2 linked regions of the Homo sapiens genome follow. The protein of the gene in region 2 purifies or fractionates together with the protein of the main gene of each other region. This does not show direct contact. Each region holds a gene or a part of one and is shown on either strand. Other genes may lie near its edges.

Region 1 (3,824 bases), about 25 Mb from region 2:
CCACCGTGCTCAGCCTGTATATTATTTTCTAAAGTAATTTCATAAACATTAGTTCATTTAATCCTCCAAAGAACCATACAAGGTGTCTATTATTTTCTTTCAGGTGAGAAACCAGGGCTCAGAGAAAACAAAGTAGCCCAAACACCTACAGCTGGCAAATGGCAAAGCCAAGGGCCTAACCCTATTTCTCTGCTTCTACTTCCCTCTATATAAAACAATAGCATGGCTCTCGAAAAATAATGCAAGCAGCATCACCTTTGAAGTATTTTCACTAAAAATGTTTAATGTGAATCTAATCAAGCCTTAGGTTAAACTTCCAGTTTTCAGAAAAGACAGGGTGACAGAAAAACAAGTTAGACAACACCCTGAGAAAACAAGACAAATCTAGAATGTGGGACATTCTGTTGAACAACTGCCCTGGTTTCTTCAACAAGTCAATGTCATAAAAGTATTTTTTTAAAAGGTGAAGCAGAGCATGGTGGAACATGCCTGTAGTTCCAGCTACTTGGGGGGCTGAGGTCAGAGAATCACTTGAGCTTAGGAAGTCAAGGCTGCAGTGATCCATGTTTGTGCCACTGCACTCCAGCCTTGGTGACAATGCAAGACCCTGTCTCAAAATAAATACATAAATAAGGCCTGGCGCAGTGGCTCACACCTGTAATCCTAGCACTCTGGGAGGCCGAGGCAGGTGGATCACGAGGTCAGGAGTTTGACACCAGCCTGGCCAATATGGTGAAATCCCATCTCTACTAAAAATACAAAAATTGGCTGGGCATGGTGGTAAGCGTCTATAGTCCCAGCTACTCGGGAGGCTGAGGCAGAAGAATCACTTGAACCCGGGCGGTGGAGGTTGCAGTAAGCCGAGATCACGCCACTGCACTCCAGCCTGGGCAACAGAGTGAGACTGTCTCAAAAAATAAAAATAAAAATAAAAATAAAAATAAAAATAAAATAATTTAAAAAAGGTGATGGTGGTGGAGGGAGCTGTTTTAGATGAAAAGAAATGAGACATACATATAATGTGGGATTCTTGACTGGATTCTAGTCTGATAAAAAATGGTTATAAAGGACATTTTTGTGGGGGAAAACTGGGAAAATTGAGGTATCAGCTGGATACTAGATGAGAATTGACAATACTAGTATTAATTTTTTTAGGTGTGGTTATAGTATTGTGGTTGTTCAGGAGAATGTCTATTTTCAGAGGTATGTAATTAAGTATTGTAAAAGAAAAAACATACACTAAGAAAAAGCAATGCAAGTGATGAAAATGATTCAATCTAGGTGCCTGAACAAGGCCCAAGGCTTCTGGGATTATAATTACAAAAATGGTATCATTAAAAACTAAGGATCGGCCAGGCGTGGTGGCTCACACCTGTAATCCCAGCACTTTGGGAGGCTGAGGCGGGTGGATCATGAAGTCAAGTGATCGAGACCATCCTGGCCAACACGGTGAAACCCTGTCTCTACTAAAAATACCAAAATTAGCCGGGCATGGTGGTGCACACCTGTAGTCCCAGCTACTCGGGAGGCTGAGGCAGGAGAATTGCTTGAATCCGGGAGGCGGAGGTTGCAGTAAGCCAAGATAGCACCACTGCACTCTGGCCTGGCAACAGAGCGAGACTCCGTCTCAAAAAAAAAGTAAGGACCTGCAAAGGAACAAGTCTATTTCAGTACTTTGTGTTTTGTTTCTGTGATTCTTCAAAACAGGCTTAGAAATTGGATTATTCTTTTAATGCTCTCACCTGCTGCCCTCCTTCTAATTTCTTGTTCAACTTCTGCAGTTGGGTAAAAATCTGGAGGTTTTCTTGCTGTAGCTTCTGTTGTTCAGCCAGACACTTTAACACCAGACCCTGCAATCTCTCAACCTCCACCTGCAGAGAGCTGCACGCACACGCAGGAGGAGTCAGTGGTGTTCCCTTCCCAGCACAGGTTACTGCAGGATTCAGCCGAGGTGACTAGAGAGACAAGAAGGAGATTGCAGGAGGTTCTGCCCAGGTGTCATAGCTCCTCAATCCAAACTTCCTCTAAGTGCAATCGGATTTTACTTTTAAATTAACAAGATAAATCATATATACACATGAATATATGTACGAGAAACAGAAATGCTAGGATTATAACAGCGATGGGCACTGACATAACATGGAAAGTGAACTCTCTGCCTCAGTCCCCATTAGGCCAAGGTGGGAGACCAATCATCTATTTTGGAGGACTTTGTGAAAAATTTTAAAGCACCTTGGTATCTTCTCATTTAAAATGCTGAAGTAGGGAAAAGCATGATTTGGTTTGGAACAAGTCTTTCAGATCACAGACCCAAAGGGTCAATATTCATGATATGCAGTGAATCACACTTTAGAAAAGATCTGAGAGGTGGTCAGTAAACAGGACCACCAACACAATTTAAGAAGGTGAACTGACAGAGAAATTAAAACATTCACCTTGAAGTTTCAAAGGTATTATTACCTCTTCTGGGAAGCTTTCTGATGATCCTAGTCTGGATTTTTCTCTTTTCTACTGTACTTTTTTTATAGGAGGGTTCAACAAATAGCCCATAGGCCAATTCTGGCCCACTGCCTGTTTTTGTAAATACAATTTTATTGGAACACAAGGATGCCCATTCATTATGTATTACTTGAAGCTGCTTTTTGTGCTACAATGTCAGAGTTGAGTAGTTGCAAAAGAGGCTGTACACATTTCTGTCTAAAATGGTCTAAAATAATTACTATGTGGCCTTTAATAGGAAAAGTCTAAAATAATTATGTAGCCTTTTATAGAAAAAGTTTCATGACCTTGGATTATAGTTTTACTGAGGTATTTACCACAATGTCATTTTTACCAAGGTTAGGTGTACATGTGTTGCTTCCTCACTAGACTACCAGTATTACTTCTTTCTTATATTTAGAGCCTCTAACCTACCCTGCCAGTGTCATGAAAAACTGAATTTGAATTTTGGTATTTCTGAGGCAGAGGGAAAAGACAATCCCTTTAGAAAGGTGTTAGCCTGTCAGAAATGTGGAAGGGTAAATACCTTTCTGAGGCAACTCAGTTTAGTCTTGGGTTGAGGCTTTAAGTACTGCTGAATAGACAGTATAATGAGTTGATGCAGGGCAGCTGAAACCCAAAAGCTAGAGCGAGGCCAGAAGAACCAGGCAGAGCTTGCAGTGACTGTTTACCTAGTTGTGATTCAAAGGCAAAAAGCTCAGTTACCGAGGCTTCTACTTGGGGTTTGTGTTCCAAAGGAGCTTCAGAGGCCACTTTGAGTCCTTGCAGCTCTTCATAGGGCAGGGTATCTTTCTCAGATTCTGAAAACGCTGCACTGAGAGGAGATGGGCTGTCAGGCATGGGGATAAATTCTGCATTTTCCAGCTCCTATGTATATGAGAAAGAATCTCATTAGTCTGTTTGCAGTATTTGCTTCCTCCCAAATTCCCTTCTTTTTGCTATAGTTTTCCCTCTCTCATGACTTCAGCACCCTCTAGTGGGCAAGACAGTTGTGGTTAACAACATATCACAGCCTACCTGTGAAAAAACTGCCACCCCTTCATCAGAGAAACAGTGATGCAAAGGCAAACTCAAAGAACACAGGCTGGAGTTTCTGGTGTGTCACTCCAACACGCTTATTCTACACAGGCTATTCAGTGAGCTGGGGCGCTCCAAGGAAGTGTCAGTGAGGCTGGCTGCAACACTGCTGAAAGCTGAGGCTAAAGGTGCAGACAGAACAGCATGCTGCTTCCTCTGTTCACGCTCCTCAAATCACTAGCAAGTTTAGTCTTATTAGACAGGGAGCTTTAAACCTACAGATTTTTTTTTTTGAAACAGGGTCTTGC
Region 2 (3,824 bases):
ACCTCTTCAACCTGCAGAGCTGCTACAGGGATTAAGGATAATACACGCACAGTGCTTGGCATGCAAACAGTCAGTGCTCAAGTAATACACGTGGGGAAAGGGCATTTCAACACTCTGACAGGTCATCAGAGTTTCTTTTGCAAAATTCACAGAGATGTTGACTTTTTTTTTTTTTTTTTTTTTTGAGACAGAATTTTGCTCTTGTTGCCCAGGCTGGAGTGCAATGGCGTGATCTTGGCTCACTGCAACCTCCACCTTCCGGGTTCAAGCAATTCTCCTGCCTCAGCCTTCCAAGGAGCTGGGAGTATAGGCATGCACCACCATGCCCGGCTAATTTTGTGTTTTTAGTAGAGACGGGGTTTCTCCATGTTGGTCAGGCTGGTCTCGAGCTCCCAACCTCAGGTGATCTGCCTGCCTTGGCCTCCCAAAGTGCTGGGATTACAGGCATGAGCCACCGTGCCCAGCTGACTTTCAAACGAAAGTTCACTTTACCATCAAACTCAAAATGTAGAGATATATTCAATCGTGTGTTTAGTACAGCTTGTAAATTCCCATTCAAAGGGTACACTGTAAATAGAATGCAGGCTCATAACAAGTATTTTTCAGCTCTTAGGATGGTTGAGAGACTGTACTCAGAAAATCTGACAATGAACTCAGAAAGAACAACTTCTTGTCAGAAAATTTCAACAGTAAACTTCAAAATTACATGGCTGAGGCCACGAGGCAATGTTAAAAGTAACACTGTTAAATGCAATTGCAATGTTAAGGCAACTCTAAATAGATAAATAACATTTGCTTTGGGACAACTTTGTATCACTGTTGATTTCATGCAAAAAATAAATAAACATGTTCCAGATGAATTTCTGTAAGAAAAATGGAAATGTAATGTGCATGTTTACCTCTATTATTTTGTCCCAGACGGGACGGTGACCCACAGCGTCCCAGAGAGTGGCATGCTTGTCATGCCCACAGGTCAAGAACTGAGATTTTGAGGCATGGATGGCCAGTCCCCAGAGCTCATCAGTGTGACCCTACAAATAACCAAGACAAACAGAAGCGCTCTGAGATACTACAGTTCGCACTCAGGAGCCGTAAGGGATGACGAACCGAGGCTTCATGCTGACTTCATAACTGCTCTCAACAGTTTCTCTCCTCCCATCTTTCAGCAGCCACAGACACTCTGGGGTGGAGGAAGGTTATCGTAGTATAAAGCACCTGATTGTAATGCTTGATTAGGGTCTGATATAATGCAAAATGAGAGTGTTTGCCGGGCCTGCTGAGTGGGATCGTACCTGAGTAATGGGTGTGAAGTCCCCTGACAGAGTGCCCTGCAGGACAAAGTTTCGAGTTGTGCCAATCAAGATCACATCGCCTTTCCCCTCGGCCACTGTCCGTATTGGACCAAACTGTTCTGGAATCTGCATTGAAAAGTCATATGAAAAGAAAAGATGTACAATTTCATTCAGTTGTTAGCTCAGTCATTCAAAACACTTATCATAATGATAGTCCCTATAACAGTTTTATATACACATATGTATATAATGTACGTTCAAATATATATGTTGTATATACATATATATGGAGAGTTTCACATAGATACCACAGCTGGCCAGGCTTGGTGGCTCATGCCTGTAATCCCAGCACGTTGGGAGGCTGAAGCAGGTGGATCACCTGAGGTCAGGAGTTGGAGACCAGCCTGGGCAACATGATGAAACCCCGTCTCTACTAAAAATACAAAAATTAGCTGGGCATGGTGGTGGGTGGCTGTAATCCCAGCTACTTGGGAGGCTGAGGCAGGAGAATCACTTGAACCCAGGAGGTGGAGGCTGCAGTGAGCCGAGATCACGCCACTACACTCCAGCCTGGGTGACAAGAGTGAAACTCCATCTCAAAAAAACAGATACCACAGCCAACTGTTGAGTGAGTGATCAAAACCCTAAGCCTTATTTTTAAACTACAAACATTTTATATATCTTAGAAGCATCAGCAAGAATGAGGTTAAGAAAAAGCATTTTCCTCAACAAAATTTAAAAATAAGGAATGCTACTGGTTAGTTTTCTCTTTACTTTTTACAATTTCTGATAGCAACAGTAGATACAATTCAGAAAGTAAAGAATATAGGCCAGGTGTGGTAGCTCACATCTGTAATCCCAGCACTTTGGGGGGCCGAGGTAGGTGGATTGCTTGAGCCCAGGAGTTCTAGACCAGCCTGGGCAATATAGCAAGACTCCATTTCTACCAAAAATACAAAAAAAATTAGCTGGGTATGGTGGTGCGTGTAGTAGCTGGAAAGCTACTCAAGAGGCTGAGGTGGGAGAATTACTTGAGCCTGGGAGGCAGAGGCTGAAGATCACGCCACTGCACTCCAGCCTGGGTGACAGAGCCAGACCCTGTCTGAAAATAATAATAATTAATAATAATAATAATAATAACACTGCCATAATACAACTTAAAATGGTAAGTTCTTTGGCAATGTCATTCTGTTCAGTTTAAAAATCGACATAAACATATGGAATAATCTAAATGTTAAGAGAAAGAATTGCAAAATACACCCATTAAGAACAATTTGCTATGATGAAGAAACAAAGTTCTTGTACTATAAAAAGAACAAATGCTGCAGCTTGACCCTGGCGGTTGCTGTTAGGCTCTCCCGTTCCAGGAAAGAAGCAGCCTCCCCTCACACATTCTCCAGTGTGGCATGTTAGCACAGATTTGAGTCAAGTTGATGATGACCCATGCTAATGAGGAAGAATCAGATACTAACAAACAGTGAATAGCTTTTATGAAATTAGATGGGGCTTTGGAGCTTTCTTTACAGTTATAATATGACTTGGGCATGTCTATGACTCTAGCAATTCACAATATGTTCAACCAAATGCTGGTCAAATCTTATTATTAAAAATGTTCTCACAACAGAATCTCCAGGCAAGGGGAAGTGATTTCCAAAGCTCAGATGAAGATCTTCCTTTATTAAGGGAAATAATCAACAGAACCAAATTTTCACACTGCCAGAGGGTGGTGCCATGTTGCTCTCTGATGTAAAATATAAGTGTTTTGTGTGTATCTGGGTTCAAAGTCCTAAAGTCTGTCCATTCTAAGCTAGGGATGAAAAGCATCACCCTTCAGAATGAGGCCAATTTTGCAGTGTCTGCTCACGATTTCCTGGAACCTGGGGGAGAAAATTCACTGAGTGGGCAGAAGGAATATTAAATATCTTGCCTCTGGTGCCTACCGGAATGCAGGGCTGCCAAGTAGATAATGGGGAGGTACACCGGGTATCAAAAGGAGTCACAGCCCTAGGGAGCACATTGGCACTTAGCTGAGGGCCATGTACGAAGTAGATACTCAACAAATACTAGTTCACTCAATGCAATAATGTCTCCAAAATAACATGCTAGAAATTAAAAATTAAAAGAGGCTGGGCGTGGTGGCTCATGCTTGTAATCCAGCACTTTGGGAGGCTGAGGTGGGAGGATCGCTTGAGCTCAGGAGTTCCAAACCAGCCTGGGCAACATCTCTACAAAATTACAAAAATTAGCCAGGTGTGGTGGTGTGTGTCTAAAGTCGCAGCTACTTGGGAGGCTGAGGTGGGAGGATCACTTGAGCCCAGGAGGGGGAGGTTGCAGTAAACTGTGATCACACCACTGCACTCCAGCCTGGGTGAGAGCCAGACCCTGCTCTAAAAAAAAAAAGAAAGAAAGAAAAAAAGAAAAAGAAAAAGTTAAAAGAGAAGACAGATTTTTATAATAAATCAAAATGTGGGTAACAGTCCCTTGGAAAATTGAGAATAAAAATATTCTAAATATGAAGTGTGTTACAACCTC

What was found.
Region 1: the proteins of EML1 (region 2) and NEK9 purify together in Homo sapiens (affinity purification with mass spectrometry; one large-scale study listed by BioGRID and IntAct). This does not show direct contact.

Annotation. Positions count from the first base shown.
Region 1 is NC_000014.9:75,085,276-75,089,099, forward strand, and holds part of NEK9 (serine/threonine-protein kinase Nek9), read right to left. Parts: intron 3,367-3,824; coding exon 3,205-3,366; intron 1,956-3,204; coding exon 1,743-1,955; intron 1-1,742.
Region 2 is NC_000014.9:99,911,773-99,915,596, reverse strand, and holds part of EML1 (echinoderm microtubule-associated protein-like 1), read right to left. Parts: intron 1,419-3,824; coding exon 1,293-1,418; intron 1,032-1,292; coding exon 900-1,031; intron 1-899. UniProt on the Homo sapiens protein: Modulates the assembly and organization of the microtubule cytoskeleton, and probably plays a role in regulating the orientation of the mitotic spindle and the orientation of the plane of cell division.